Linked DNA regions of Homo sapiens: region 2 is linked to region 1. Evidence: fine-mapped expression QTL. A gene starts in region 1. The other region holds a variant in brackets. All regions are shown on one strand. Distances are from middle to middle.

The links. PIP is the estimated chance that this variant, and not a neighbour inherited with it, causes the effect.
Region 2: its variant is the best candidate, but not a certain one, in a credible set for the expression of XDH in unexposed skin (GTEx, PIP 0.72).

Annotation. Positions count from the first base shown.
Region 1 is chr2:31,406,439-31,423,530 of GRCh38, forward strand. XDH (xanthine dehydrogenase) reads right to left here and starts at 8,304. Exons shown (of 36, transcript NM_000379.4): 1 at 8,187-8,304. The coding sequence starts at 8,228. RefSeq lists an enhancer at 10,043-10,092.
Region 2 is chr2:31,497,072-31,514,163 of GRCh38, forward strand. No RefSeq gene overlaps it. Among named protein-coding and RNA genes, the nearest start is that of SRD5A2, 75 kb to the right of the region's middle. RefSeq lists an enhancer at 1-243. The variant G/A (reference allele first, on the strand shown) is at 7,792.

The DNA of each region.
Region 1 (17,092 bases):
GGTGTTTCTTTATAGCAATGCATGAATGGCCTAATACAATGTGCTAAATAGATCATGAAAACTAAGGTATTTTTATGGCAACTCCATAAGAATGAACCTATAAACTACAGCCAGACAATGTATATACTCAAATCCTTAAATTCTAAAATTGTACCTCAATGCTCACCTTGGGACCCACCACAGAACATGCAGGCATTGCACCTTCCACGCTGGCTCGACCAAGGCCAAATCCCCTTCAAATAAAACCTGTCATCTCATTTCAACTGCTAGATCACACCTGTGAATTTCAGGGGCATCTGAGAGCATGGCATGCAGATCTCGGACTTTGCCTCTTTGAGTATACAATCTCAGATCCTGCATGTGACTGTGGAAGGCCATTCTGTTGGCCTGTGCTCAGAGCAGAGTGTTGGCATGTGATGCGTATTAGTCAACACTAATACATGTCAGAAATGAAAGAGAAATCTCAAACCAAAGATCCATCACTAGGTTCAATAAGGTGGAAAAAGTGGTCTAGAAAGTGCGATGTCAGTTCCCACTGTGAATTGTCAAAGGAAATCTACAAAAACCGATTTCAGTACTCTTCACACATTACCAAAGCTTAAAAGGGTGTATATTATTGGGATAATAAAGAGAAAGAATTCATGATAAGGTTTTCGTTGGAGGGAACTATACTACCCACACCTTCCTAAAGGAGAAGGGGAGGAATATTTGCCTCCCACCTCAAACTTAGTGAGGGAGCTTGCTTTGTGCTACATAAAAATCTAACATGCCACCTTTGCAGCATAGGGGAAGAGATAGGCTTAACAAGAAATTAATACCGACAATGACAAGTTTAAACTCCTCATTAAACTTAAGTTGGAGAGGTGGCTGTGCTGGGGTTGGTATACACTCCCGGAGCTTGGTAGAGCAGAGGATGTGGAAGTGTCGCCTATGGATGTAATGCAAGCCATTCATGAGATAAAAAGAGCTGGCTTGGAGGTCTTTAAATCATTTCCCAAAATACAGGATAGAGCATTCAATAAAGAGAGACTGTGTGGAGTGGACTTCCCCAAACTGGAGGCTGATGGAGAACAGCAGCCTGAGAAAAGTGCATCACTCATATCATGAGACATGCATGCAAATATTCCCTGTGGTGGCCCTTGAAGATCCTTGAAAGCCATCACAAGAAGAATGAAAGGTCAGCTCCAAACACCTAAAAGGCTCAGAAAGCCGGAAGCCATCTTACAATAGTACCAATTAAAGGAGAGCTTTCTTGCTATCCTCACCCCGCCGTCCTGAATTGAGACTGTTTGGCAACTTAAAAATAACCATAAGATTTTTTATTGACTAAGAGTAATAAAAAGTTCATGAAACTGCCAGAATTTGTCCTTTGAATAAAGTTTAAAGGAAAGTAGATGAAATTAATTTTCTTATGTGATTACACCCCATGAGTCCAGCTTATTCAATATCCTGGTTACAAATCATAGAAGTAATCATAAATGCACAAAATAGCAATCTTTATCACCTTTCTTGTAGACAACATTAAGAGCCTCTTAGCTTACCACCACATTGTTCATTTCTCCCGTACTGCAGTTCTGCTTTTATCACATCACATCAGTTCCCTGCTCAGTGCTTTTCATGACCACCCACATATTCAAGGTAACATCCAAGTTCCTTAGGCTGTCTTTCAAGGCCCTTTTCAATATATTCCCAATCTTCATTTTCAGCCTTTCTCCCTTCTACTTCCCTGCCAAGCTGGTCATCTTAGTGCACTAAAAATACATTTTATATCTTCTAATTCCTGTGCCTTTGACTATGCCATTCCTCTTCCACCTGCATTTTGACTTATCAGAAGACTTCAAACAATTTCTTCATAAAGGCTTTCCTTATCACTCCAGCCACAAGTGGATTGCTATAGAGAATGACTGTGCCACTCTCAAGGTGTGACAGCAGGATTACCATGGTGCACTCCATTGAACACTCTCAACAGGATACCAATGGGTATCCCAAAGGAAAAACATTTTGTAGGGAAGTGAGTTAAGGAAATGTTGGGTTAAGCAGATTGCTCTGGTAAAACTTGAGCATCAAAAGAAATAACAGCCATAATGGGCTATAATACATTAAATACAATTAAAACCTATGAGTCCAAATAGAGTCAACAAACAAACAAATGGAAGATATGGAAAAGCTCTTCCTGGCAGAAGAATGTCATCTAATAAATATGATTGGCCATCTTGTAATCAACACAATTGATCCAGTTAAGAATCATCAATGGAAATTAGTACAGCCACTATGGAGAACAGTTTGAAGTTTCCCCCAAAAATTAAGAATGGAGCTACCATATGATCCAGCAATCCCACTGCTGGGTATATACACAAAAGAAAGGAAGTCAGTATATAAAACAGATACCTGCACTCCTATGTTTTTTGCAGCATTATTCACAACAGCCAACATTTGGAAGCAACCTAAGCGTCCGTGAACAGATGAATGGATAAAGAAAATGTGGTACACATACACACTGGAGTGCTATTTAGCCATAAAAAAGAACGAGATCCTGTCATTTGCAACAACATGGATGGATGGAGCTGGAGGTCATTACGTTAAGTGAAATAAGTCAGGTACAGAAAGACAAACTTCACATGTTCTCACTGATTTGTGGGAGCTAAAAATCAAAACAATTGAACTCATGGAGATAGAGTAGAAGGATGGTATCAGAGGCTGGAAAGGGTAGTAGGGGGTAAGAGGAAAGTAGGGATGGCTAATAGGTACAAAAAAATAGAAAGAATGAAAAAGACCTAGTGTTGGATAACACAACAGAATAACTACAGTCAATAATAATTTAACTGTACATTTAAAAATAACTAAAAAAGTATAATTAGATCATTTGTAACACAAAGGATAAATGCTTGAGGAGATGAATACCACATTTTCTATCATGTAATTATTACACATTGCATGCCTATATCAAAGTATCTCATGTACCCCATAAATATGTAGATCTACTATGTACCCCCAAAAATTAAAAATTAAAGGTCTTTCCATCTCCCCTTCTTCTCTTTTCTTCTGGTTTTTATGTAAATGTTGCAATGAGCCATCAGTGACTATGAGATCAAGTGTAATACAGAACTCCTAAAACTCAACAACTATAAAACCCAATTCAAAAATGGGCAAAGGACTTGAATAGACATTTCTCCAAAGATCTACAAATGGCCAGCAAATAAATGAAAAGATGCTGAACATCACTAATCAGAACTATAATGAGATTTCACCTCATACCCATTAGGATAGCTATGATCAACGAACAAACAAATAAACAGAAAATAACTGTTTGCAAGGACGTGGAGAAACTGGAACACCTGTCCACTGTTGATGGGAATGCAAAATGATACAGCCACTGTGGAAAAATAAGTAGGACAGTTCCACAAAAAAGTAAAAATAGAACCAGCATATGATCCAGCAATTCCACTTCTGGATTTATACCCAAAATAATTGAAGTCAGGGTCTCAGATATTTATACACCTGAGTTCATGACAACGTTATTCACAGTAGCCAAACTGTGAAAGCAACCAAAATGTCCATCAATAGATGAATGGATAAGCAAAATGTGATACATCCATACAATGGAATATTATTCAACCTGAGAAAGGAAGGAATTTTTGACATATGCTACAACATAGGTGAACATTATGCTAAATGAAATAAGCCAGTCACAAAAAGACATACTGTATGATTCCCCTTAAGTGAGGTAGTTTAGTCAAATTCATAGAGACAGAAAAAATGATGGTTTCCAGGGACTGGGAGAAAGGTAGAATAGGGAGTTATTATTTAGTAAATTTATAGAGTTTGTCTTAAAAGATGAAAGAAGTTATGGAGGTGGACGGTGATGATGGTTGCCCAATATTATGAATGTATGTAATACCACTGAACTGTACACATAAAAATGATTAAGATGGTAAATTTTATGTATTTTACCACAATAAAAATTATTTAAAAAAAGAATATCAATGGATACTCAAATTAGTGGGTGAAAATTTGATGAACAAGAATTTGTATCATTCCAAATTATCTTCTCACATAGCCTCTATTAATTATAAAGGTAAAGAAAAGTTACCTTACAGTGAAGAAACGTGGTGGATAACACCTTAGCCAAGTCACCAAAGTTCGCATCACAAAAAAGACCCAAAAACTGACGTTAAAAAAACAAACATAATGACAGAATGCAGTGAGAAAAACACATTACTTCTGTGGTATTCCTGCCCCCCAAATGCAGACTCTGAATCTAATTACAAGAAAGCATAATACAATTCAATGTGAGGAACATTCTAAAAAAAAACTGGCCTGTTCTTTTCAGAAACACCAATGTCATGAAAGGAAAGCTGAGGAGCTGTTCTAGATTAGAGGAGACTAAAGACATGGCAACCAACTGCAAGGCGTAATCTTGGATTCCGGGCTGGGGTTGGGGAGTTATAAATGCCAGTATTGGGAAAATTGGAATACATTTGCATAAAGTTTATAGTATTACACCAAAGCTAAGTTTCTTGATTTCTATAAATGGACTACAGTTTTGTAAGAATATATTTATTCTGGCCAGGCGCGGTGGCTCACGCCTGTAATACCAGCACTTTGGGAGGCCGAGGTGGGTGGATCACAGGTCAGGAGTTCAACATCAGCCTGGCCAAGATGGTAGAACCCCAACTCTACTAAAAATACAAAAACTTAGCCAGGCACGGTGGTGGGCGCCTGTAATCCCAGCTACTCAGGAGGCTGAGGCAGACAATTGCTTGAACCCAGGCGGCAAGGTTGCAGTGAGCCGAGATCGCGCCACTGCACTCCAGCCTGGGCGACACAGTGAAACCCTGTCTCAGGAAAAAAAAAAAAAAAAAGAATATATTTATTCTTAGGATAAGAGCTAAAGGAACATGATGTCTGAAACTTACTGTCAAAAGGTTCAGAAATCTATCTTATACTATATATTCATTTATATTAATTATGTACATTAATATATAGAATTATTTACGTACTTATAATACATACATGTGTATCTGTGTGTGTGTCCAGAGTGAGAAAGAGAGAATAATAAAGCAAATGTGGCAAAACATTAACAGTTGGTAAAGTACATAAAGGGTATTTAGTATTTCCTTGTATTCTTCTTGCAGTTTTTCTTTAAATATAAAATAATTGTAAAATACAAAGTTAGAGAAGTAATTTATTTACTACAGGATTTCTCAAAGTTTTAAAAATTCATCCACTTATTCCATCCACACTAGTTGGACACCTACTGTATACCATGCACTGTGCTAAGTGGTTTAAGAATATCCAAGAAGAGCATCTCATGCTGCTAGTTTTCTGTGAAATACATTTCAGAAGGTATTACTTTGTCTAATTATAATCCATCTCTCTAACTAGTATATGGGCTCCAGAATGGCAAATGCCTGATCTTGGAGATCTTATTCCCCCAGTGCATATCCTGTTGTCTGAGGCCTCAGAAGGAGCTTGATAAATGTTGACTATATGGGGAGTGAGCAAGTGAATGATGAGTAAGTGAGTGAGTGAGTGAGTGAGTGAGTGAAAGTCACCGTGACGATCTCTGTAGCTGACACTCACTTCTTGTGGGGATCACTCCTGGACACCTTTGGCTGCACCCAACCTGCCAGATCCTCCCAGATTCTTCCAGGTGCCACAGTCTCAGCTAGACAGAGTGACTACTCAGAAAAGCTAGAATGCTGCCTTGCAAAAAGGCTGTCATTACAATAAAAATAAAATACTGGACAGCTCTTTCCCTTTGACTCTGACTCTAGAACAAAAGAAGATGTGAATGAAAACAATAGTCATCAAGGCTCATCACCACCACAGAAGGCCCTAGAGGTATTCGACTTCTTGCATCGAACACCTTCTGCAGGACCCCATTTAGTGAAGCCAGAGTCCTGGACAGTGGTACAAAACAAGGAGAGGAGTAGGCTCACATTTAAAAACCAAACACTGCATGTTCTCACTCATAGGTAGGAATTGAACAATGAGAACACTTGGACACAGGAAGGGGAACATCACACACCGGGGCCTGTCGTGGGGTGGGGGGAGAGGGGAGGGATAGCATTAGGAGATATACCTAATGTAAATGACGAGTTAATGGGTGCAGCAAACCAACATGGCACATGTGTACATATGTAACAAGCCTGCACGTTGTCCACATGTACCCTAGAACTTAAAGTATAATAATAAAAAAAAAGAGTCACTAAGTTCTTACAGCTTCTTTGGTAACTACTTTGCACAATTCCTGTAACAAAAGGTCTAGAATATCTTCTGAATAAAAATGAGGACAACTTTCTCACAGCTGCCATTGTTTACCCAGGAATTCCCTTGCTTGGTCTTGTTTTTACAGCATTGCTTTCACATAATTACTTTCTGCATTGCCCCTCTACCTTTCTTGCAGTTTCTGAAGATGCTACATCATTATAAATTACAAACATGGATATTCATCACAGAAACTGGCAGTAGTAGAAGCTTCTAGAAATAATAGGATTTGATGTGATGGTACCATCGAAAAATTTAAAATTACTCTCCTAAAGTGAAAGTAAAATGCAAGGGAAAATAATTTTCCCCAAGCCAGATTTACCTTGAAATTCTTCTTTCTAGATTTAGTGCATAACAGCAAGCCATCCCTGAAGAAGAGCAGAAACTTATACTTTTACAGGTTAACCAATGGTTTGGTTTAATAAATAATAAAACCTCAGAGTAAGACATGACCTTGGACGTCATTGAATCTAGCTGTTTACCCAATGTAAAAATTACTAATAAAAATTCCAGAGATGGCTTTGTGTAAGTAGCTCTCCTAGAAAGCCAATTGCACAATGGTTTCCTAGATTTCTACAATGTAATTGCTGAAGGAAAGAAGTTGTTTGAAATGCTGGATGCAAAATCTTACACTTGAAAGCTTTGCCCTACTTCTTGGGTTGGTACCAGGTGCCAACCCTGAAAAGGATGCAGCTCAGAGAGGAAACTCTGAACCCAGAAGAACATGGCTGTCCCCATTCCCCAGCACTTCCCAAAGGCACCACTCAAAGAGAGTCCATCAATCTTTGGAGCACTGACGTTGAAACAGTTCATGAAATTTCTTTTACAGTCACCCAAACACATCCTGGAAATTTAAGACCTAGGAGTCCAGTGAAGCACATTATTGTTCTTGAAAATTATACCAAAAGTCACTCAAAATTACATCAAAAGTTTCTCAACTCAATGCAAAAATGCCAATATAGAAAGACAAATAAAATTGCCCTTCTTTGGGGGACACTTTGGGCACATTCATCACGCACAGTCCACACAGTAAGTTACAATGTGCAACTATGGGACTCTTTTACTATCCTTTTCATTCCTAAGTGGGAAGTTGAACAGGTATGAGCATCTCAGCAGTGTTGTAGGAGGGCAAATGGAGGCTAGTGACCATGTAATATGCTTGCCCCCTCTCTCTCTGCACCACATTAAAATTTGCAAAGATTCTCACTCTTGTCCAAGGGCTGGTACCCATGTCACCTTCCCTAAGTCCCTGTGTACCAATAAGGTAAATTCAAGTAGGTAACAGATTTGCAGCTTACATGTAGAACTCACTGTGTGTGGGTGGGGAGTGGGGGGAATGCAGGAGATGCCCTTTATGAAAAAAAAATTGTGGTTTGCCACAAGGTGTCAGTATATGTCACCTCACAGTGAATCAGGACTGGCTGTTAAACCTATATATATAATATATTAGAATCAAAGGCTGCGTACATCTTATATCCTGATAAAAGCAGGAAAACACATTCCTGTTCCTTCTCTCTGTAAAGAGAGCAACGTAAATTTTAGGATATATTTGATTAAAGACAGAAATAGAAGTGTGGTGATGACCTCAAATCTCACCTAGAACTCAACTCCCCTTTCTCATTCTGTGCCAATCTCCACTACTGCAGAGAGTTGGCAGCTAGCTCACAGATGCCTCTCTGCTTGCCTCTCTCTCCCTCATTCTTTGGCCTCTGAGTATCTTGTCTGTGCTCTAGCCCCGAGAAGGTCTTCTTCCCTAATGTTACCAAAATGCAGCGACACCTTTAAAGCGAGAGAGAGAAAGACAGAACAAGTAAGAGGGGACAGGAAAGACAGAGAACAAGATATGGCTCTGCCAGAGGACACATTTCCCCTCCCAGGGAGAAGGGACACAAAACCAAAGGTCAGCTCCTACTTACCTTTCTGCCATTCACAAAGAAAACCAATTTGTCTGCTGTCATTGTCACAGGTTGGGGTCCCCGAACTCCAGGTACCTCACTCCTAAGAGACACTGGCAGGTAGTTATCACTGCTCTGTGACCTGAAAGTTACGCCTCCCAATAAAATGAAATAAGGTCCACCAATGGGAGGGAACCAGCTCAGAGCTTCAGGGCATGAAGAGTTCTTGGCAAAAGCCACTGGTTTACATAATCAAGGAAGTGCAAACAATCACACACAGCAAATTACAATCTCCACACCTGTGTCAAAGAGCACAGGAAACTACATCCAGATATCAGTAAGGTTGTTGACTTGGCACTAGGCGACTGTGGGTCTTGGGCGCTGCTCTTATGAAACCTGCTTCGTCCTCCCACTTGCTGCAAGACAGAGAAGGGGAAGACAGAGGAGGGAAAGGACTATTCTCAGAGTCACTGCTAATAGAGCTGATTCACACCCTCTGTGTCTACATTTGTCATTTTACCATTCAGGTTTACAGCAACACAGACTGACTGCATGAATGCAAGAGTCATTCTTTCACAGCCTGGTGGAGCAGAGAGGTCACAGGACATGGAGCCCCATGAACCTGACTCAAATCCTGGCATTTGACCTCAGCATGTTACTTACTACCTTCAGAACTCAGTTGCTTTCATCCTGTACAGGATCATAGAATGATATCAAGAATAGAAGAATGAGGGACAAATGACATTTTGGGAGTGCCTTGTAAATTTGCAAAGAACCAAAACATGTATCACTGTTGAAAAGACATCTTCAACATCTCAACAAATAAAATCCTAATAGCAAACTATTTTTGAGATTTGTCTTTTATTTGTTTCTCTCAGGAAAATATCCTTGACAAGTTGTCAGAGTAACTCATAAAAGTATTTCAAAACACCAAATAAATTAAAATGCTCATACCACATAGTCATAGGCTACAGTAACACATAGCTGAAAACCTTTCCCCATCCAATATCCATTAACTCTCAGTGGAAACACAGATGTGCACGTCCACTGGAGCAGCACTAAAGGGCTCTCTGCAGTCCAGCACCCTCCCAACTGCCCCTACCAGTTCTTTAGTTCAACACACACACACACGCAAAAAAAAAAAAAAAAAAAAAAAAAAAAACACACAGAGACCAGCATTCACTCTGGTCTTCTTCTGTCCTGTAATGACCCATACAGTGGCTCAGCCAGCCTTCCTTAAGTAAGACACCTCCCCTACAACCCTAGCAGGCTACCTGAGGGGGAAGAAAGGAGTATTAGGCAGATGTACTTGATATAGCAACAGCTTAGAGAAACTGAAGACTGACAGGACAACCACACAATCAACACAATGCCCCCTCTCACCACAGCCTTAATTTAACCAGGAGATGAAACTTTACTTGTTGGTTGACCAAATATCCCAGTTTGCCCTGGACTATCCTAGTTTTAGCCTTGAATCCCTGACAAATGCCTCAGAGATCCTAGTAAATCCTTCAGTCCAGGGCAAACTGGGATGGTTGGTCACTATAAAACTGGTTGTTGGCTGGGCATGGAGGCTCACACCTATAATCCCAGCACTTTCGGAGGCCAAGGTGGGTGGATCACCTGAGGTCAGGAATTCATGACCAGCCTGGCCAACATGGTAAAACCTCATCTCTACTAAAAATACAGAAATTATCTGGGAGCAGTGGGCCACCTGTAATCCCAGCTACTCTGGAGACTGAGGCAGGAGAATCACTTGAACCTAGGAGGCGGAGGTTGCAGTGAGCTGAAATCATGCCACTGCACTCCAGCCTGGGCGACAGAGTGAGACTCCATCTCAAAAACAAAACCGAAACCAAAACCGGTTGTTAAATCTGAGAGATTCCCTACCCCAGAAGCCACTTGGCAATGTCTGGGGATATATTTTATTGTCACAACTGGGGAGGGATGCTACTGGCATTTAATGGATGGAGGCCAGTAATGCCACTAAACATCCTACAAACCACAAGACAGTCCCACCCCAATAAAATGAACAACAATGAATGTCAATAGAGCCAAGCTGGAGAAATTCTGCCCTGAAAGAAAGAAGGAAGGAGCTGGGGAGAGAGAGAGACTGAGCCTAGGGCATGTTTTGTAATTAGTCAATTCTTCCAAACCCTCACACCTCTTTGATTGAGAGGCTTTTCCTCCATGCACTAATCTACCCAATTTAACAAGCCCTCCCCTTCCTCCTAGGCATTCCCCAGCCAATGCTCCAGGAAAAGCTAAAGGGACGGGCTGAGGAAAGAGCTCAGGCTTTGGAGTTCCATAGGCTGGCTTGAATGTTAGCTCCACCACTTCTGTGTGCCGCCTTTGGCAAAAATCTCTCTCTTGGCATCAGTATTCTCATTTACAAAACGGAGGTGGCCATAATTGCTTGGTAAGGACCAACTCTTAGCTGAATGAAATAAAACATAGATTAAATCTGTTGTCCACAGGAGAAACTAATGTTGGTGTGCTTCTCCCCACTCAGCAAATCTTCAACCCCTCTCTTAACTAGAGGTGAAATTCCTCTCTATTACTATGGAGCATTGAAAGATAAAAGTGAAATAAATTTTCAATAAGGGTTTGTGTTGTCATGCAGAATTTTCAGCTCTGTAATAACTAGTTGAAACCCCAAATACTGACATTTGACAAAAACTTGAATTAGTATGATTACTTATTATTTAGCAAAGTATTTGCCACCATTTTCTTTCTCTGTGACTTTATTTCTTTAATTAACATTAAAATCATACACATTTATCATGTATAATATGATGTTTTTAAATATGTATACATTGTTAAATAGCTCCATTGAGCTGAATAACATACATGTTACCTCACATATTTATCATTTCTTCTGGTGAATACACTTAAATTGTCGTAGAGATTTTCAAAATATACATCGTTATTAAGTTACAGTGACCATGTTGCACAACAGATCTCTTGAATTTATTCCTTCTATCTGACTGAAATTCTGTATTATTTGACAAGCCTAGCTCTATCGCCCAGGCTAGAATGTAGTGGCGTGATCTCAGCTCACTGCAACCTCCAACTCCCTGGTTCAAGTAATTCTCCTGCCTCAGCCCCCCGAGTAGCTGGGATTACAGGCATGTGCCACCCTCATGTTTGGTTCCAAAATTCTCTAGACCAGTTAAATGGGGCCTCTGTCTGTTTATAACAAAGGCATGGAGAGGCTGATGAAATTTTTCCTAGGAAGAAGTACTCTCTTTTTCTCATTTGTCTTGAACAAGTTCACAATCTTTGCTCACAGACCCACCATTGAAGCACTCCCATTTAGCCCCAGGTAATTTTTGTATTTTTAGTAGAGACGGGGTTTCACCATGTTGGCCAGGTTGGTCATGAACTCCTGACCTCAGGTGATCTGCCCACCTTGGCCTCCCAAAGTGCTGGGATTAGACCTATATTTAGGTGTCTCAATGTTGGGTGCATATATATTTACAATTGTCATATTCTCTTGAGAAATTGAGCCCCTTTTCACTATATAATAATTTTTTGCCTCATTGTACAGTTTTTGACTTAAAGTTTATTTTATCTGATATATGTATAGCCAACCTGCTCTTTTTTGGTTTTCATTTTCATGGATATTTTTTCCCATCCCTTCGCTTGCAGTCTATGTGTGTCCTAAATGTGAGATGAGTCTCTTGTATGCAGCTTATAGTTGGGTCTTGTTTTATTTATTTATTTTTCCATTCAGCCACTCTATGTCCTTTGATTAAAAAATTTAATCTATTTACTTTTAAGGTAATTATTAATAGGTAAGGACTTACTACTGCCATTTTATTGTTTTCTGGTTGTTTTATAGATCTTTTGTTGCTTTTGGCCTATTTTGTTTTCTTACTTTGTGATTAAGTGATTTTCTCTAGTGTTATGCTGTGATTGCTTACTTTTTATCTTATGTGTATCTACTGTAGGTTTTTCCCTTATGGTTACCACGAAGCTTACATAAAACCTCTTACAGTTATAACAGGCTATTTAAAGCTGATAACAACCTAACTTTCATTGCATAAAAAACCCTAAACTTTTGCTCCATTCTCCCTCACATTTTGTTTTTGAAGCTGCAATTTACATCTTTTTATATTGTGTATCTCTTAACAAATTATTGTAGTCATTATTTTTAATAGTTTTTTCTCTTAACCTTCATACTAAATATATAAGCAATTTACACACCACCATTACAGAATTAGAGTGTTCTGAATTTGACTGTGTATTTACTTTTACCACTGAGTTTTACACTTTCATATGTTTTTGTATTACTAATTAGTGTTCTTTTCTTTCAGCTTGAAGAACTTCCTTTAGCATTTCTTGTAAGACAAGCTTAGCGATGTAAACATTCTTTCCAGTTTTTGTCTGGGAAAGTCTTTATCTCTCCTTCTTCATCGCTCCTTCATTTCTCCTTCATTTCAGCTTTTGAGGTACAATAATTTTGGTTGGCAGAGTTTTTTCTTCAGCATCCTGAATATATCATCCCACTATCCCTGGCCTGTAAGTCTCTGCTGATAAATCTATTGCTAATTTCATTGGAACTCTCTGATATGTTATTTGCTTCTTTTTTCTTGCTACTTTCAGGATCCTCTCTTTGGTTTTTAATGGTTGGATTATAATGTGTCTTGGTATAGTTTTGTTTAATTGAACCTTATTGGAGACATTTGACCCTCTTTACCTGTGTATTTATATCTTTCCCCATATTTGTAAAGTTTTCTGCTATTATTTCTTTAAATAAGCTTTATACCTCCATTGTCTCTCTCTTCTCCATCTTGAGCTTTTATGACTCAAAATTTGTACTTTTGAGGTTGTCCCATAAGACCCATAAGCTTTTTTAAAATTCCTTTTTATCATTTTTTTTCTCCTTTGGCTGTATGTTTTCAAATAACCTGTCTTCTAGTTCACAGATTCTTTCTTCTGCTTAATCAGTATTGCTTTTGATGCTATCTATTGCATTTTTATTTCATTCATTGTATTTTTCAGCTCTATAATTTCTGTCTTTTTAAATAATTTCAATATCACTGTTAAATTTCCCATTTTGGTTGTGCATTGTGTTTCCTGATTTCTTTGAATTTCTTTATATTTTCTTGAAGTTGGCTGAACTTCCTTAAAACAATTATTTTGAAATCCTTGTCAAGCAGTTTTTATATCTCTATTTCCTTGGGGTCAGCTACTGGGAGATTATTCTTTTGGTGGTGTTCTATCAACTTGCTTTTTCATGTTTCTTTCTGCCTTCTGTTGATATCTGAGCATTTAAAGAAGTAGTGACTTATTCCAGTATTTGCAAACTGGCTTTGTCTGGGAAAGTTTTTCACCAGTCAGCCCGTCCAGAGATTTGGGGCAGGTTGTCTGGTATAATCTGAGAGTGGGCTTTCTGCTGGAGCCTTCAGGAAGACTGGCCTGATGCCTAGGTCAGCAGGTGAGTGGGCCTGGGGTCAGGATCCACTGGGGTAGACCTATTGATTGAATCCAAGGGCAGTAGGCCTGGAGCCTGAGTTGGTGAGGGCAAGCCTGGAGCCTATTTCCACTGATGCTTGATGTCTGGGTCTGTAGGCATTGACCTGGTGCTGGGATAAGTTTTGAACCTGAATGTGCAGGGGCTGGCTTAGGGTGCTAGGGTGGAACCTGAAGCTGTGGGGTCACACTTGGCACCAGAGTGGGCTTGGAGGTTTAATCCCCAAGTGGATTGGAGTCTGGGCCCACGGACACCTGCCTGGCTCTGGGTTTTACTCTAGTGGACCCAGTGTTGGGTCCAAGGCAAAGTTTAGTGCTCAATTCCCTGTCCCTGGATATCTCCTTGGAGATCTTGGAGAGATATCCAAGTGAAGGATATCTCTCTCCACTGTGCTGCCTAGGGTTGGGGAAGTGGTAACACAGATAATGTAAAACTATTCTTCCTACCCTCTTCAATGCATCTTTTCTCATTTCTATGCTGTACCCAGGTGCTATAATCTCTCAGCTGGTATTCTTAGCTCTTGTGAAGGCATTTTTTTTTGCATAGATATTTGTTTAAATTGATGTTTCTGCAAAAGGATGAGTGCTGAAAAATCTTATTCCACCATCTTGCTGACATCAGTCTCTTCTTTGGTACTTTTCAAAATAGTATAAATGAAGGGAAAAAAATCTAAAGTCAGAACTTTTTCCATACTGAATATCTACTGTATATGCTTTTCACATTAGGATGAATTCTGAAATTTTGGCTGAAGTAATGGAATTTTACCACCTGGTAATAGACCAACTGTGATGTACATTTTATTACATTAACTTACCTTATTCTCCTAAGAGATATCTTGGCTTTTAATATACACTGCATTGGCATGTGAGGCTTTAAAATTCATAGAAAATCCAGATAAGCCCTGAGGCCTTCTGGACACAGACCTCTTCCCAGTGGGAGCCACACTTTCAGGAAATCATAAAAGATAAGAAAAGTAAAAATGCTGCCAAGAGTCATAACTTATTTTTTGAAGAGTGAGCTCCCTCAGGGCCAAGTACTTCCTGGAAGAAGATGATTCAAGAAAGACTATGGAGTGTTTCCTGAAAGGCTGGTCAGAGCTAGACCAGCATCTGTGGAGACTTTAGTGCTTTTGAATTCATGCCCTGGCCTTCTGTGCCCTGGCTGTGTCTCTAGCTCTCTTTAGAAGTCACTGCTGGCCTTTATCCTGCCTCTGCAGCAGCTTCTTCCCAGTCTGCTCCGTCCTTTTTCTTTTCAACCAGATGTACATTCTTGTCTGTAACCTAAGGGCATTCTTGTTCATTTTCTTTATTTACAACAAAGTTTACTTTAAAAGAAAGAAAATGTTTTTTCAATATATTCCATTGTTCAGATTTTTTTAACCAAGACTGGTTTCACTCCTACATATGCTCCACTCTGGATGAAAGATTTTTGCCATATTCTCAGAGCATTACTACTCAACACCCAATACTCCTTTGTTCTCTCAGACATCTATATTATTAAGTAATCCTAATAATAGTTCTTGACTATGAATAACATTTCTTTCACACATCTTGATTTCATTTGATCCTTATAATAGCCCTGTGAGGTAAGTAAGGAAGTTATTTTTATCTTCCTTTTTCAGACAAAAGCAAGTGAGAGTCAGAGAGGTTGACTTGCCAACTGTCGCACGACAAGCAAATGCCAGTTTCTACATCCGTCACCCATTTCCCAGCAGAAAAGTTATCTCTCTGATGGTTCTTCACTAGTAAAACCAGGATTGTTAGCATAGCATTTATGGCCCTTCTTAGTCTGGCTGAAATCCAGCTTTCTGGTTGGTAAAGTGTCTTTCTCTCTTGCCTAGATAGTGGGCCCCTGAGATTAGGAGCAGAACAGTGTTTACCACTGTTTCACTGGTGCCTAGCATAGAGCCAGATCTATAGAAGCATCAAAAAATGTTTGTTGAATTGTGTCCACAGTGCAAGGGATGAGTTATGTTTTCACAAATATCTAAGCGTCTGCCTTTTACTAAACACAGAAGTTTCTTCCGTCATTTCATAGATTCTCAGCATCATTTAACTTCGTTTACCAGTTCCATTCTAACTAAACTTTTGTTAGTTAACCAGCTAGTATTCCTTAAGATAAAGGTCACATTACTTCATTACTATAGAGGAAATCAATCAATCAAGCAAATACACATCTGGGAGAATCCTCTTAGGAAGATGAGATTATAAAAAAAAATGGACACAGTCAAAACTAAAAGCATGTAAACTTCAGCCTGGGTCTTCACTGCAAATACACAAAGGCCCAGGGAATAGAAAAGGCCCTCGAAGCAAATGTAAACCCACTTCAATCTGTCTGCATCATCCTTATGTTTTTTATAATGTATTTTTCACTCAATAAAGTCTGTCACCACAGAGTCACGTGTGGCAACGACCATGTGGGTTTGGTGGCTAGCTGGACAAAGTAAAGTTTCTCTTTCCACTCTGAGCTGCTCTTGCACAATTCAGGAAAGTAAGTCCTTACCTCTTCACTTATTCAAGGATCAACTCACATGTGATCTGTAGACAATATAGACCAATGAGTAGCCACTGGAGAAAATTATTATTATGACTATTTGCACCCTTAATTCCTTCCCCTGATTTATTTTTACTATTATCATCTGAAATGATACATAGTGCACTCACTTATATGTTTAATGTCTGTCTTCCTGCACCCAGCAGAACGTAAATGTGGCAGGAATGTCAATCTTCCCACCAAATATTCATGCTCTCCTTCTCTAATGAAGAGTTTCTGCTGGGAAGTCACTATCCAGCCAGGAGCTACATTTTGCAGCTCCCTTATATGTGGCTAAAGCCACATGATTGAATATTGATGAATGTAATATGGGTAAAACTGATGTGTACAATGCCCAGGCTCCCATTCTGTCTTTTCTACTGTCTGACAACTGATGTCAATGACCAGGGTGACGTTGGAAGTCACAAATTGAAGACAGCAGAGCTTTCAATAAACTCAAGTGCTTAAATAAATATAATGAGCTGAACATTTCCCCCTACCCTTGTTGCTTATTGACTTTACAGGAACAAAAAATAAATTTCTATTGTGCTTGCTCACTGAGATTTCTGGGTTTATCTATTATTGCCTCTAGTATTACATTCACTAATACAATAAATTCCACAAAGGCAGAGATATTATCTGTTTTATTCAATGCTAAACTCTGCCTGGACATGGTTGGCATACTATTATATTCAAGAAGTATTTGTTGAATAACAAATGAATGAATGAAAACGATATCAGAACCAGGTTTTAGTTAAACGCAAAGGAGCATAGCTCAAATGTCTGGCTTGGCCCTCATGCAAAGCTGTGTGTGCAAATGGTATCACTGGGGTTCATAGGCTCCTCAGGAGAACTTATTTTCTTTTCTTTTCTTTTTTTATAAAGTGTTTCTTTTATTTCTGTTTCTTATTTTCAA
Region 2 (17,092 bases), 91 kb after region 1:
GGCCAGGTCCTCCTCTGAGACAAAACTTCCAGAGGAACGATCAGACAGCAGCATTCGCAGTTCACGAAAATCCACTGTTCTGCAGACACGCTGCTGATACCCAGGCAAACAGGGCCTGGAGTGGACCTCTAGCAAACTCCAACAGACCTGCAGCTGAGGGTCCTGTCTGTTAGAAGGAAAACTAACAAACAGAAAGGACATCCACACCAAAAACCCATCTGTACATCACCATCATCAAAGACCAAAAGTAGATAAAACCACAAAAATGAGGAAAAAACAGAGCAGAAAAACTGGAAACTCTAAAAAGCAGAGCACCTCTCCTCCTCCAAAGGAACGCAGTTCCTCACCAGCAATGGAACAAAGCTGGACGGAGAATGACTTTGACGAGTTGAGAGAAGAAGGTTTCAGACGATCAAACTACTCCAAGCTACAGGAGGAAATTGAAACCAAAGGCCAAGAAGTTGAAAACTTGGAAAAAAATTTAGACAAATGTATAACTAGAATAACCAATATAGAGAAGTGCTTAAAGGAGCTGATGGAGCTGAAAGCCAAGGCTCGAGAACTACATGAAGAATGCAGAAGCCTCAGGAGCCGATGCGATCAACTGGAAGAAAGGGTATCAGTAATGGAAGATGAAATGAATGAAATGAAGCAAGAAGGGAAGTTTAGAGAAAAAAGAATAAAAAGAAATGAACAAAGCCTCCAAGAAATATGGGACTATGTGAAAAGACCAAATCTACCTCCGATTGATGTACCTGAAAGTGACAGGGAGAATGGAACCAAGTTGGAAAACACTCTGCAGGATGTTATCCAGGAGAACTTCCCCAACCTAGCAAGGCAGGCCAACATTCAGATTCAGGAAATACAGAGAATGCCACAAAGATACTCCTCGAGAAGAGCAACTCCAAGACACATAATTGTCAGATTCACCAAAGTTGAAATGAAGGAAAAAATGTTGAGGGCAGCCAGAGAGAAAGGTCGGCTTACCCACAAAGGGAAGCCCATCAGAATAACAGCAGATCTCTTGGCAGAAACTCTACAAGCCAGAAGAGAGTGGGGACCAATATTCAACATTCTTAAAGAAAAGAATTTTCAACCCAGAATTTCATATCCAGCCAAACTAAGCTTCATAAGTGAAGGAGAAATAAAATACTTTACAGACAAGCAAATGCTGAGAGATTTTGTCACCACCAGGCCTGCCCTAAAAGAGCTCCTGAAGGAAGCACTAAACATGGAAAGGAACAACCGGTACCAGCCGCTGCAAAATCATGCCAAAATGTAAAGACCATCGAGACTAAGAAGAAACTGCATCAACTAACGAGCAAAATAACCAGCTAACATCATCATGACAGGATCAAATTCAAACATAACAATATTAACTTTAAATGTAAATGTGCTAAATGCCCCAATTAAAAGACACAGACTGGCAAATTGGATAAGGACTCAAGACCCATCAGTGTGCTATATTCAGGAAACCAATCTCACATGCAGAGACACACACAGGCTCAAAATGAAAGGATGGAGGAAGATCTACCAAGCAAATGGAAAACAAAAAAAGGCAGGGGTTGCAATCCTAGTCTCTGACAAAACAGACTTTAAACCAACAAAGATCAAAAGAGACAAAGAAGGCCATTACATAATGGTAAAGGGATCAATTCAGCAAGAAGAGCTAACTATCCTAAATATATATGCACCCAATACAGGAGCACCCAGATTCATAAAGCAAGTCCTGAGTGACCTACAAAGAGACTTAGACTCCCACACAATAATAATGGCAGACTTTAACACCCCACTGTCAACATTAGACAGATTGACGAGACAGAAAGTTAACAAGGATACCCAGGAATTGAACTCAGCTCTGCACTAAGCGGACCTAATAGACATCTACAGAACTCTCCCCCCAAATCAACAGAATATACATTTTTTTCAGCACCACACCTATTCCAAAATTGACCACATAGTTGGAAGTAAAGCTCTCCTCAGCAAATGTAAAAGAACAGAAATTATAACAAACTATCTCTCAGACCACAGTGCAATCAAACTAGAACTCAGGATTAAGAAACTCACTCAAAACCACTCAACTACATGGAAACTGAACAACCTGCTCCTGAATGACTACTGGGTACATAACGAAATGAAGGCAGAAATAAAGATGTTCTTTGAAACCAACGAGAACAAAGACACAACATACCAGCATCTCTGGGACACATGCAAAGCAGTGTGTAGAGGGAAATTTATAGCACTAAATGCCCACAAGAGAAAGCAGGAAAGATCCAAAATTGACACCCTAACATCACAATTAAAAGAACTAGAAAAGCAAGAGCAAACACATTCAAAAGCTAGCAGAAGGCAAGAAATAACTAAAATCAGAGCAGAACTGAAGGAGATAGAGACACAAAAAACTCTTCAAAAAATCAATGAATCCAGGAGCTGTTTTTTGAAAGGATCAACAAAACTGATAGACCGCTAGCAAGACTAATAAAGAAGAAAAGAGAGAAGAATCAAATAAACGCAATAAAAAATGATAAAGGGGATATCACCACCGATCCCACAGAAATACAAACTACCATCAGAGAATACTACAAACACCTCTCCGCAAATAAACTAGAAAATCTAGAAGAAATGGATAAATTCCTCGACACATACACTCTCCCAAGACTAAACCAGAAAGAAGTTGAATCTCTGAATAGACCAATAACAGGAGCTGAAATTGTGCCAATAATCAACAGCTTACCAACCAAAAAGAGTTCAGGACTAGATGGATTCACAGCCGAATTCTACCAGAGGTACAAGGAGGAACTGGTACCATTCCTTCTGAAACTATTCCAATGAATAGAAAAAGAGGGAATCCTCCCTAACTCATTTTATGAGGCCAGCATCATCCTGATACCAAAGCCGGGCAGAGACACAACAAAAAAAGAGAATTTTAGACCAATATCCTTGATGAACATTGATGCAAAAATCCTCAATAAAATACTAGCAAACCAAATCCAGCAGCACATCAAAAAGCTTATCCACCACGATCAAGTGGGCTTCATCCCTGGGATGCAAGGCTGATTCAATATATGCATATCAATAAATGTAATCCAGCATATAAACAGAACCAAAGACAAAAACCACATGATTATCTCAATAGATGCAGAAAAGGCCTTTGACAAAATTCAACAACCCTTCATGCTAAAAACTCTCAATAAATTAGGTATTGATGGGACGTATCTCAAAATAATAAGAGCTATCTATGACAAACCCACAGCCAATATCATACTGAATGGGCAAAAACTGGAAGCATTCCCTTTGAAAACTGGCACAAGACAGGGATGCCCTCTCTCACCACTCCTATTCAACATAGTGTTGGAAGTTCTGGCCAGGGCAATCAGGCAGGAGAAGGAAATAAAGGGTATTCAATTAGGAAAAGAGGAAGTCAAATTGTCCCTGTTTGCAGATGACATGATTGTATATCTAGAAAACCCCATTGTCTCAGCCCAAAATCCCCTTAAGCTGATAAGCAACTTCAGCAAAGTCTCAGGATACAAAATCAATGTACAAAAATCACAAGCATTCTTATACACCAATAACAGACAAACAGAGAGCCAAATCATGAGTGAACTCCCATTCACAATTGCTTCAAAGAGAATAAAATACCTAGGAATCCAACTTACAAGGGACGTGAAGGACCTCTTCAAGGAGAACTACAAACCACTGCTCAATGAAATAAAAGAGGATACAAACAAATGGAAGAACATTCCATGCTCATGGGTAGGAAGAATCAATATCGTGAAAATGGCCATACTGCCCAAGGTAATGTATAGATTCAATGCCATCCCCATCAAGCTACCAATGCCTTTCTTCACAGAATTGGAAAAAACTACTTTAAAGTTCATATGGAACCAAAAAAGAGCCCGCATCATCAAGTCAATCCTAAGCCCAAAGAACAAAGCTGGAGGCATCACGCTACCTGACTTCAAACTATACTGCAAGGCTACAGTAACCAAAACAGCATGGTACTGGTACCAAAACAGAAATATAGATCAATGCAACAGAACAGAGCCCTCAGAAATAATGCCACATATCTACAACTATCTGATCTTTGACAAACCTGACAAAAACAAGCAATGGGGAAAGGATCCCCTATTTAATAAATGGTGCTGGGAAAACTGGCTAGCCATATGTAGAAAGCTGAAACTGGATCCCTTCCTTACACCTTACACAAAAATTAATTCAAGATGGATTAAAGACTTAAACATTAGGCCTAAAACCATAAAAACCCTAGAAGAAAGCCTAGGCATTACCATTCAGGACATAGGCATGGGCAAGGACTTCATGTCTAAAACACCAAAAGCAATGGCAACAAAAGCCAAAATTGACAAATGGGATCTAATTAAACTAAAGAGCTTCTGCACAGCAAAAGAAACTACCATCAGAGTGGACAGGCAACCTACAGAATGGGAGAAAATTTTCACAACCTACTCATCTGACAAAGGGCTAATATCCAGAATCTACAATGAACTCAAACAAATTTACAAGAAAAAATCAAACAACCCCATCAAAAAGTGGGCAAAGCATATGAACAGATGCTTCTCAAAAGAAGACATTTATGCAGCCAAAAGACACGTGAAAAAATGCTCATCATCACTGGCCATCAGAGAAATGCAAATCAAAACCACAATGAGATACCATCTCACGCCAGTTAGAATGGCAATCATTAAAAAGTCAGGAAACAACAGGTGCTGGAGAGGATGTGGAGAAATAAGAACACTTTTACACTGTTGGTGGGGCTGTGAACTAGTTCAACCATTGTGGAAGTCAGTGCGGCGATTCCTCAGGGATCTAGAACTAGAAATACCATTTGACCCAGCCATCCCATTACTGGGTATATAACCAAAGGACTATAAATCGTGCTGCTATAAAGACACATGCACACGTATGTTTATTGTGGCACTATTCACAATAGCAAAGACTTGGAACCAACCCAAATGTCCAACAATGATAGATTGGATTAAGAAAATGTGGCACATATACACCATGGAATACTATGCAGCCATAAAAAAGGATGGGTTCATGTCCTTTGTAGGGACATGGATGAAATTGGAAATCATCATTCTCAGTAAACTATCGCAAGAACAAAAAACCAAACACCACATGTTCTCACTCATAGATGGGAATTGAACAATGAGAACACATGGACACAGGAAGGGGAACATCACACTCTGGGGCCTGTTGTGGGGTGGGGGGAGCGGGGAGGGGGAGCATTACGAAATATACCTAATGCTAAATGACGAGTTAATGGGTGCAGCACACCAGCATGGCACATGTATACATATGTAACTAACCTGCCTGTTGTGCACATGTACCCTAAAACTTAAAGTATAATAATAATAATTTAAAAAAAAAAAGAATTTTTTAATCAAAAGTTAAAAAAAAAAAGACATACCTGAGACTGGGTAATTTACAAGGAAAAAGAGGCTTAATGGATTCACAGTTCCACGTGGCTGGGGAGGCCTAACAATCATGACACAAGGTGAAAGGCATGTCTTACATGGTTGCAGACAAGAGAGAATAACAGAGCTTGTGCAGGGAAACTCCCCTTTATAAAACCATCAGACCTCGTGAGACTTATTCACTATCATGAGAACAGCACAGGAAAGACCTGCCCCCATGATTCAATTACCTCCCACCCACCAAGTCCCTCCCATGACACGGGGGAATTGTGGGAGCTTCCATTCAAGGTGAGATTTGGGTGGGGACACAGCCAAACCATATCATCTGGGTTGTTGTGGTGGTTCCATAGGTACATACATTTTCAAAACTCATCAAACTGTACACTTAAAACTAGTGTATTTTATTATGTGTAAATTATACCTTCATAAGCTTATTTTTAAAAACTACAATGAGATACCTTTTCTCACCCACTGGAATGGTTAATATTAAAAAGACTGACAATACAAATGTCGAGAATGTGGAGCAACATTCTCATACACTGCTGATGAGAGTGTAAAATGGTGCATTCACATTGGAAAACTCATTGGTGATTTCTAGTAAAGATAAACGCATGCCTTCCTTCTTATCTAGAAGTATATATCTAAGAGAAATGCATATATATTTACAAAAAGACTTTTCCAAAAATGTTCATAGCTGCTTTTTCTCACAGTAGTCAAAAATGGAAAACAACTCAAATGTTCAACAAATAAAAGAAGATAAATAAATTGTGGTGTTCCAGACCATGAAATAATATGCATCATTAAAACAATAATGAATTACTTATACACACAAGCCCATGGATGACTCTGTATATAATTCTATACCTGTGTGAATCTGCTTTGGCAGTGTATAACTGGTCACATGTTTAGCAGCTTTGAATACAAGCCCTCCTTTTCTACCATCCTTCTTGGGTTTTGGTATTCATTGTCTTGTGAGTCCATTTTTTTGTATGGCTTATAAGGTCATCCTGGAGTTTCGTCTTGTTTGGAAACCCCATTTCCTATCCCCCAACCAGCTGGAAAGGTTTGGATACCATGATAATAAAGCACATACAAATGGACTTAGGTGACCTCTGAGTCAGATATCAACAAGAAAATCCCTTCATTGCTTAGACTTTGAGGTACTCTTCCTTGATTTTATCTCTCTTCACCTTTCCTCACCTGGGAGGCAGAAGATAGGGAGTCGCCCAAGGCAAGGGGATCAAAAAATCTCCTCTACCTGCTTTTGATGTCAGAATTAGCCCTGTCTGAAGCTGAGCGATCAGCCCAGCTCACCAAGTATTTGAGAGAAAAACTGGAATAGTACATACAATGTGTTTGCCTGGAGTTTTTCTCTGCATAGTTACCTGTGATGGTCAAAGTGACTAACCTTCAGGGATCCTGGGAGCTGGCAAAAGATCATCACAGTCGAACAAATAGCTGACCTATAAATTGATTCTCATTCCCTAGTCTCGTGTTCATTATTACAATACAAACACCATGAAGACAAAAAAGCCGTGCCCCAAGCCCCTTAGAGTTGTCCAGCTCTCTTCCCAAGCACTTTTTTTCCTTGTCTATGCCAGAAGGCACTGGATTCGGCAGTCTCTTGCCCATTCAAAAAGTCCTAAACTGACACTTCTGAAGAGGATCAACTAGCAAACCAGCATTAGACTGTACTCTTTATTTCAGGCTACATCAGAATGAGGCATCCATTGATAAATGGTTATGATCAAAAGAAAGACTTGGAGAATCAGTTGTCCAACTGATTATAATTTTCTTTGCACAAAATATGGATTCAATTTCTGGTATTGAAGACCAACTCAGTAGAAAGAAGCCTTAGAGGGTTATGTCAGATTTCCCTTTATTAGATCCTTTGCTCTCCTTTTGTCTCCACATAAGCTTCAGATATATGCTGGAGAAAACCTTCAGTAAGCCATGAAGTGCCCTTTGAACATCCGTCCCTCCTGGTTGCAGTATTCTGAGCAGATAAGACAGGCAATTAACTTGGTACACAGATAAAGTTGGGGCAGGAAGCCCGGCATGATTTTAGGCTCTTGGTGAAGGAGAAGGTAAAACAACTCACCTTATAGAAGAGAGAAAACATGTTACAAGAACACACATAACCCCACTCACTACCCCATTGGGTATAGTCTTGTTCAGTCCTACATTTCTAGAAGGGAACAGCTCTGCTGTTTATACCTGTGGGAGGCATACTGGGGCCTAGTCTACCACAGGTATTAGATCTACATGTGGTTAGCAGGAAAGTGTCCATAAATTTGCAGATCCTTCAGGAATTCACCCTATGTTTATACCTAGAATTTAGAGTTGAGTTCAA[G/A]GCTGATGAGCATAAGTTTAGCCCAAATTCAACTGAACCTGAGATTATGGATCCCGCCCTAATTTAAGGGTAAGAAAAACAGAACAGCAAAGATCAAGAGAACAAGAGTGAGTTCAAGGAATTCTGGAGCAACCTATCAAATTAACAGTATTTACTTAGCCCTGTGTGGCTCCACACAATGCTTTGTGTTAAAGGATTCTTAAGTGTGAGACATGGGCCCTGGACCACAGAGGGGACAAGACATGCACCCATGAGAAGATCAAGAAATCATGCTAGGTAGCGCATAATTCAGGACCAAGTTGTGTGTGATTGTTGGTGAACACATTAACAACAAATCAGCAAATGGAGAGAGTCTGTGGCCTTCCTCCAGAGATCAGGGAAGCTTTAAAGGAGGGACTGAGGCTTAAGCAGCATTCTTAAAAAGGATTTGGATTAGCTGAGAAGAAATGGAGAGAGGGAGACATTCTTGCTTTGGCTGGAAAAGGAACAAAAGCTTGGGAGGGAGGAGTGAGTGCAAAACATTCACGTGACAAGAAGGAAGTAGAGAAAGAGTGAGGCAAGGTTCATAAGATAAGAGCCAAACCATGGAGGGTCTTGTAAGCTGATGAGTTTGTTTGATTTAATGTGTTAAGAAATGCAACACTGTATTAATAAGTCTATCCATTTAGTTGCTGACAGTGCAGGGTCAAGTGAGGCACCTGAGGTAAACAAAGTACTTGCCTGCAGTGCAAAATTTAAGGGGGCACCATAAAACTCAGTAATCAAGATAAACAATATTTTAATGCAGCATTTAAAAGATAAGATTCATGTAGAAAATCCATAATTAATAAAATATCAAGATTTTAAAGAAAGACAGCATCAGTAACAGTGGCATGCTAAGCCATATTAAAGCCTGAGAAAAAAGGAAAACTAAGTAATACTAACTTTGTCCTCTTTTTGGAAACTCAAAACACATATTAGTATATTAGGGGCTTTGAAAAGTACTGCAAAAAGTTCTATTCAACTCTTTAGTACTACATATCCCAAATGCATTTAACCACACATTTTTGCAGGCAAAATCTTTAGAATATTTTTCAGGACAAGCTAATATATTTTACTATTTTTTGACTGATAAAGAAACCAAGGCATTGAGAGTCAGCAAGATCTTTCTAGTTAACTAGGAATAAATAAATGAAAAATGTTGTGAGAGTATCAGTTCTTTTCTTGTATAAATAAGTGTGGTATAATGAATAGCTTTTAACCTTTAATTATTTTTTACAAACCTTAGGTAACTATAATTACAAATTAATTGAGAACTGTCTATAAATATGATTGCATAAATTGTAAGGAATTGTGTTAAATCTGTGCTGACTTCAAGGTAAAAAACAATACCCTTCACTGTATGGGAAATGAGCATCTAAAAAACTGACCTTGCTGCCAACAGGAGTTATAAGATCTGGACAAAATACAAAAACATCTACACGAGACTCTGGAGACTGAACAAAAGCAAGCAGTTTTTGGAGGAGAGCTAAAGCTACAGCAAGGAACACCATGGAACACAATGAGTTTTCACTTCATGTGGCTTTCCTCTGAAGGTAATAACTAGAAGACGAATCAATAAGAAGAATCTGAACAACAGGAAAAAAGTGAACAGAGCCTCACTGATCTATGGAACAACTTCAAAAGATCTAGCATATGTGGAAATGTAGTCAATAAAGGAAAGGAGAAAAATAATAGGACAGTAAACATATTTCAAGAAATCATAGCCAAAAATTTCCGAAATCTGGTTAATGACTTAAATTTACAGATTAAACCAATTCCATGAATCTCAAACAGGATAAATTTGAAAGAATCATACTTAGGCACATCGTGGTCAAACAGCTGAAAACCAAAGATAGAGAGAAAATTATGACATCACCCCAAGAAAATGACCCACTATATTCAACACTATTTGAATAATCATGGCTTCTCATCAGAAACAAAGGAAGCATACAGTAAAATAATATCTTTAAAGCATTAGTAGAAAAAACAAACCTATTAACTAAGAATTTCATGTTCTGCAAAAATGTCTTTTAAGAATGAAGCTGATATAAAGATATTTTCAAATAATGAAAAACTAAGGGTATTCATTGCCACCAGACTTGTACCACAAGAAATGTTATACTGAGTTTTGTAGGCTGAAGGGAAATGATACCACAGGAAAATTCAGAAAAGAATAAACATAACGATATTTATAAAAGACTATTTCTTCTCTCAATTTATTTATAATACAGACGACTGTTTAGAGACAAACTTTTAGCATTGCCTTATAGAATTTACAATGTATATATATCTAATACATATAGTAACCATAATATAGAGAATGGTAGAGGCATAAATGAATAGACCTAAATAATTGCAAGGATTATATATTTTAAATAAAGTGGTATAAGACTAACTTTAAATTACTAACTCTAAGTTAACTTACCCTATGAAAGGCTAACCATAGTACATCAACTAGAAAGATTACACCAAGAAATATTGCTAAAAATCTAATACAGAACATTAAAATTGAATGGTAAAATACATATATAATGCAAAAGAAGGCAGAAAGAGAATAGCAAAAGAAAAATGGGCAAAGAGAACAACCAAATAAATAATAAATTGGTAGGACTAAATCCAATCATGTCAGTAATTTCATTAAATGCTAATGTACTAAGCATGCCAAAGATTATCAGAATGGATTATTTTAAAGGCAAGATTAAATTTATGTTGTCTACAAGAAACATGTTTTAAATATGAAGACATAGACTAAATATAAAGATGGACAGTAAATAGAAGAAAAAAGAAATACCATGTAAATAGCTTAAGAAGATTAAAATTGATATATTAAAATCAGATAAAACAGACTATCAGATAAAGAGTAAAAATTACAGTATTATCAAAGATAAAGAGAGCCCTTCATAATGATAACATTATCTATTGGGGCCTTTTTAGCTCAAGTAATTGGTAAGATTTAATAATCAAAAATGTGTATACACATAATAATAGAGCTTCAAAATACAAGAAGTGAAAATTGATACAACTAAGGCAAAATAAACAATAAAAAAATTATAGTAGGAAAATTTAACACCCTTCTCTCAGGAATTGATAGAACAACTAGACAAAAAAAATCAACAAAATGTGATATCTCATTGTACTTTTGATTTGCAATTTTCTGGTGATTAGTGGTGTTCAGTATCTTTTCAGATATTTTTTGGCCACTTTTATGTCTTCTTTGGAAAAATGTTTAAGTCCTTTGTCCATTATTTAATGGGGTTATTTGTTCTTTTGCTATTGAGTTATATGAGTTCCTTATATATTTTGGATATTAACTCCTTATTAGATAAATAGCTTGTAATTATTTTCTTCCATTATGTCAGTTGTCTTTTCATTTTGCCAAGTCCAAAAAATCATTGCCGAGATGGAAACAGAAAAACAACAGAGAAAAATCAATGAAACAAAAAGCTGGTCTTAGAAGAGATCAATAAAATTGATGACCCTGTAGCAAGATTGACCAAGGGAGAAAAAAAGAAAACACAGACATCAAAAGAAAAATAGGAGGATATAACAGACAATTCTATGTCCAAAAATTTGATAATTTACATAATTATTTCAATGTCTTGAAAGATATAAACTACCAGAACTCACTGAAGAAGAAATAAATAACTCAGATAATACTATATTTATTTTAAATTGGATTTGCAATTAAAAACCTTCCAAAAAAGAAAACTACAGGCCTAGATTGTTTCACTGGTGAATTCTACAAAACATTTAAGGAAGAAATAATATTAATTGTATACCATCTCTTTAAGAAAACAGGAGAGAGACAACTTCTTAACTAATTTTATGTGGCCAGCATTACCTTAATACTCAAACTAGACAAAGACATTACTAGAAAACAAAACTATAGACCAATATCCCTCATGAACATAAATGCAAAAATTCTCAAAAAAAATTAAGAAATCAAATCCAGCAATAACTACATATAATAATATATCATAACCAATAGGGGTTTATACAAGGTTTGGTTCAATATTCCAAAATCAATCAATGTAAGTCACAATATTAACAGACTAAAGAAGAAAAACCATATGATTATGTCAATAGATACACAAAAATATTTGGTAAAATTCAACATCTGTTTATCATAAAAAAAAAAAACTTTCAGGAATCTAAAAAAATAAGGAGACTTCCATACTGATAGATGGCATATCACACACACACACACACACATACACACAACATACAACAAACAACAACTATAGCTATTAACGTTGAAAAGCTAAGTGCTTTTCTCCTAACCTTAGAAACAAGGTAATGATGCCCCCTATCACCACTCCTATTCAATATTTTACAAAAACTCCAGCCAATGTAACAAGATTTTTTTTAAAAGATGATTGAAAATAAATAAAACTCCCTCTGAAACATTATTTTTCCTCTAAAACATTCCAAAAATCAATTTTCAAAAGGTTCATAGAACTAATAAGTGAGTTTGTCAGGGTTGCAGGATACACAATCAAGGTACAAAGATCAATTGCATTTCTATAGGCTAGCACAGAATTCCAAAAATATAGAGTTCAAAATTTACAAAACAGTCCCAATTACAATAACATACAAAAAATGAACTAGTTAGGTGTCAATCCTACAAAATATGTATAGAATTTGTATGCAGAAAACTACAACACATTGATAAAAGAAAACAAGATCTAAATAAATGGAGAGACATATGATGTTCATGGAATGGAAGATTTAATCTTGATAAGATGCCAATTCTCCCCAGATTGAGCAATAGTTACAATGCAATACAAATCAAAATCTCAAAGATCTATTTCATAGATAATAAGGAGCTAAATCTAAAACTTACATGGAAAGACAAAGGAATTAATACAGCCAGAACAGTTTTGAAAAAGAAAAAGTTGGACCACCCACACTACTTAATATCAAAACTCGTAAGTTTAAAGTTATCAATATATTGTGGTATTCGTAAAAAATATACACATACAGATCAGTCATATAAAATAAAAAATGCAGAAATAGATTCTACAAATATAGTCAACAGATTTTTGGCAAATGTGCAAAAGCAAACCAATACAGAAGAGTTCCTCTTTTCAACAAATGATGTTGAAGCAATTGGGTAGTCATCAGGAAAAATACAAGAACAGAAAGTTAACCTCAATCTGTATCTTACATGTTACACAAACATTAACTCAAAATGCGCCATAGAATAAAATTAAAAAGTGTATCTATAAAGCATCTAAAAGAAAACAAATAAGAAAATCTTTATAACCTTGAGTTAAGCAAAGAGTTATTTAGCTATAACACCAGACGTATGATCCATAAAAGAAATAAATTAATAAATTAGACTCCATTTAAATTAAAATTTTTTACCTGTTAAAAACACTCTTACACGAATGAAAAGACAAGGCACAGGCTGGTAGAAAATATTTTCAATAGATACATTTGACTGAACACTTGTATTCAAAATATGTAAATAGCTCTCAAAACTCAACAGTAGATTCAGCTCAGTGGCTCAGGCCCTTAATCTCAGCAGTTTGGGAGGTTGAGATGGGAGGATCTCTTGAGCCCAGTTTAAGACCAGGCTGGGCAACATAGTGAGACCCTTGTCTCTACAAAAATGGTTAAAATTAGCCAGGTGTGGTGGTGAACACCTGTAGTCCCAGCTACTCAAGAGGCTGAGGTGAGAGGATTTCTTGAGCCCAGGAGATTGAGGTTGCAGTAATCCATGATTGTGCCACTGCACTCCAACCTGAGACCCTGTCAAAACAAACAAACAAAAAATCTCAGCAATAAGAAAACGACACAATTTTTTTAAATGAGGAAAGATCTAGACACTTCACTAATGAGGAAATATGGATGGCAAATAAGCATACGAGAAGATGCCCAACATCATTACACATTAAGGAAATGCAAATTTAAGACAAAAAATTACTACTACATACCTATTAGGGTTGCTAAAGAAAAAGGCAATATCAAGTGCTTGTGAATATGCAGAACAATTGGAACTCTCATACATTGTTGACTGAAATGGAAAATTATGCAGGTACTTTGGAAAAACTGGTTGGCAGTTTCTTAGAAACATATGCATACCTAATCCAGCAATCTCACTTCTATGTGTTTACCCAAGAAATTTATTTATTTATCCATGAAATGTATGTTTGCTAAAAATCTATACACAAATATTCATAGAAGCTTTATTTATAATTGTCAAAAACTAGAAACAACTCAAGTATCCGTCAACATGTGAAAGAATAAATAAAATGTGGTACACTTTGAGATACTTAATGCAGTATTACTTAGAAAAACAGGGAATAAACTACTGATACAATCAATTACATGAATTAATCTTATAATTTTTACAGTGAGTGAAGGAATCCACATATAATAGAGTGCATACTTAAGATTCCATTTAGGTAAAATGCAAACTAATACAAGAGGGAGTTGAAAAGTTTGTGAACAGAATTGAATGAAAAGATAAAATAGAAAATGTGAACTTTATTTCTCAACATAAGTTCCATCAAAGTCATGACACATTTTTTTGTGATGGTATCAGACATTTAGTTCATCCCTAAAGAACTGAAAGTCCTGGGAATTTAAACAATGTCAATACTGTGTTTTGTTTTGTTTTAACACTGTTAGCTGAAGAAAAATGGGTATCCTTTACAGACTTTTTTAAGATTAGGAAACAAAAAGAAGTCAGGAGCCAAATCAGGACTGTAAGCCTAACAATTTCCCATCAAAACTCTTGCAAAATTGTCCTTGTTGGATGAGAAGAATGAGCAAGAGCATTGTCATGATGAAGGACTCTCTGGTGAAGCTTTCCTGGGTGTCCTTCTGCCAAAGCTTTGGCTAACTTTCTCAAAACATTTTCATAATGAGCAGATGTTACCATTATCTGACCCTCCGGAAAGTCAGCAAGCAAAACACCTTGAGCATCCCCCAAAAAACCATTACCATGACCTTTGCTCTTGACTGGTCCAATTTTGTTTTGACTGGACCATTTCCACCTGTTGGCTGCCATTATGTTGCTTGTCCTTTGTCTTTAGGATCATATTGGTAAAGCCATGTTTTATCTCCTGTTATAATTCTTCAAAGAAATGCTTCAGGATCTTGATCCCATTGTTTAAAATGTCCATTGAAAGCTCTGCTCTTGGCCCCAGCTTATGTGGGCATCTTTCAGTCAGAATATGTAAGCTGAACCAATTGAGATGTCTATGGTGTTAGCTATTGTTCATGCTGTTAATCATCGGTCCTCTTCTATTAGAGTGGAACAAGATTCTTTTTTCCCTGACAAATTGATGTGATGGTCTGCTACTGCAGGCTTCATCTTCAATATCATCTTGTCCCTTCTTAAAATGAGTTACCCATTTGTAACTGTGGATTTCTTTGGGGCATTGCCTCCTTAAACATTTTGTGAAGCATCAATGATTTCACCCTTCTTCCACCCAAGCTTCAGCATCAAGTGGATGTTCGTTCTTGCTTCAATTTTAGGAGAATTCATGTTGCTGTGATAGGGGGTCTTTCAAACCCATGTCTTTCTTATCTTTCTTAGTGCCTCAAACTAGATCCTGTTCAGATATGTTATAACTACCTGGTACAAGTTTATTTTGGCACAAAAAATATTTTAAATCCATTATAGGTTTTCCATAATATGCATTTTCTGTGAATTATTTGAAGACTCCACATATATACTGAAGAAAAGAAAATCAGTGGTTGTCTACAACCATGGGTGAAGGGGAGAATGGACTGTGGTATGAAGAAGTTTTTAAAGTTAAGGAAATATCCTGTATCTTGATTGTAGTGGTTGTGACATGGGTGTATACAAGTGTCAAACTCATTGTATTGTATACTTGAAATAGATGCAGTTTATTGTAAATAAATAACTTCTTATCAAATAGATTAAAGAAATTTCTAATATCATTTTTCTCTCTTATGATGTTTTTCTTTCTCCTAAAAGTAAATGAAACAGAAAATTTTTCCTGCCTAATGAAGTGATTTGCATAATGAAGTCACTGATATATGACCCTTCTAGAGTTTCTGACCAGCCATTATAGTTTCATCTGTTTTCCCCCACCTGCTCCCTTGAATGTGAATAAAGTGTTTGAGCATTGACCCCACTTCTGTAGGCACTGTCCATCCCCCTACCACAAAGAGCCAGCTCTCCCCAGAGATGCTTCCTTGTGTCGCCCAGGTGATTGTTCACCACACTTGACTCCTAGAATAGCTGTGGCCCAGAATTTGGAAGTTAGTGCTCCAGGAGATAGAGTTTTCCTTTGATTTGAACTAAACTTCTTGAGTCCTGCATTTTTTTACTGACTCATATTCAGATGTTACTGGCTCTGCCTTGGAGCTTACTGCAACTGAATTATTAATGCCTCAGAAAATTCTACACAGACCTGGATTGATTCCCATAAACCACATGAACTACAGGCCAGGTTGGCCCAGGCAAACTGGTGAACCAGGAATTATACATTCAATGCCTGGCACTTAGAGTTATAAATCTAGAAGGAGCCTTAGAGAGCCCAAGTCCAAACTCAGGCCTCTGTTCAACCTGAGCTTCCCCAGCAAGTCATCCTCCAGGCTCTCTGGAACACTCCAGTGATGAGGAGTTCACAATCAGATGTGTTGTCTTCTTTGCAGTTAATTAAATATCTCTCCTCTGAAGTTTACTCCTTGTTACCTTCCTGGCCTCCCCAGTCTCTGGGGTGCCCAGAGTTCAAACCTCAATCCCACTTGCTCATGTTCCCATCTGTGCACCTAAGCAGTCCCTACTACCAGAGGGCACCCCAAGTGCCACTCAGCCCCTTCCCTCTGCAGCCTTCTCCCCTGCTTCTGTTTCCTCACCTTGTTCTCTGCCCTGGGACAAGGGATCAACCAAACCATTTAATCCCTGCCAAGACGCATTTAACTTAGAGCAATTTCAGGTCACCTGGTGCTTTAACTTACGTAAAAGTCTCTGTCTCCCAAAAAGAGTGCCAGGGTAGGAACTTTTGACCCCACGGGTGGCTAGAAAGGAAGACATTTGTGTCATAGGACTCTTTTAGACTTCTTTGAATCAAACTGCAAGAAGAGGTAGAAAGTTAGCTTTTACAAGATATAAGCCAACAACACTGTCCTCAGTGTTTAATGTGCATAAGAAGCATCTGGCCCACTCCCTTAATTAAGATCCATGGGCAATCCCCTCTGTATTAGTCTGTTCTCACATTGCTATAAAGAACTACCTGAGACTGGGTAATTTATGAGGAAAAGAGGTTTAATTGACTCACAGTTCCACAGGCTTAAC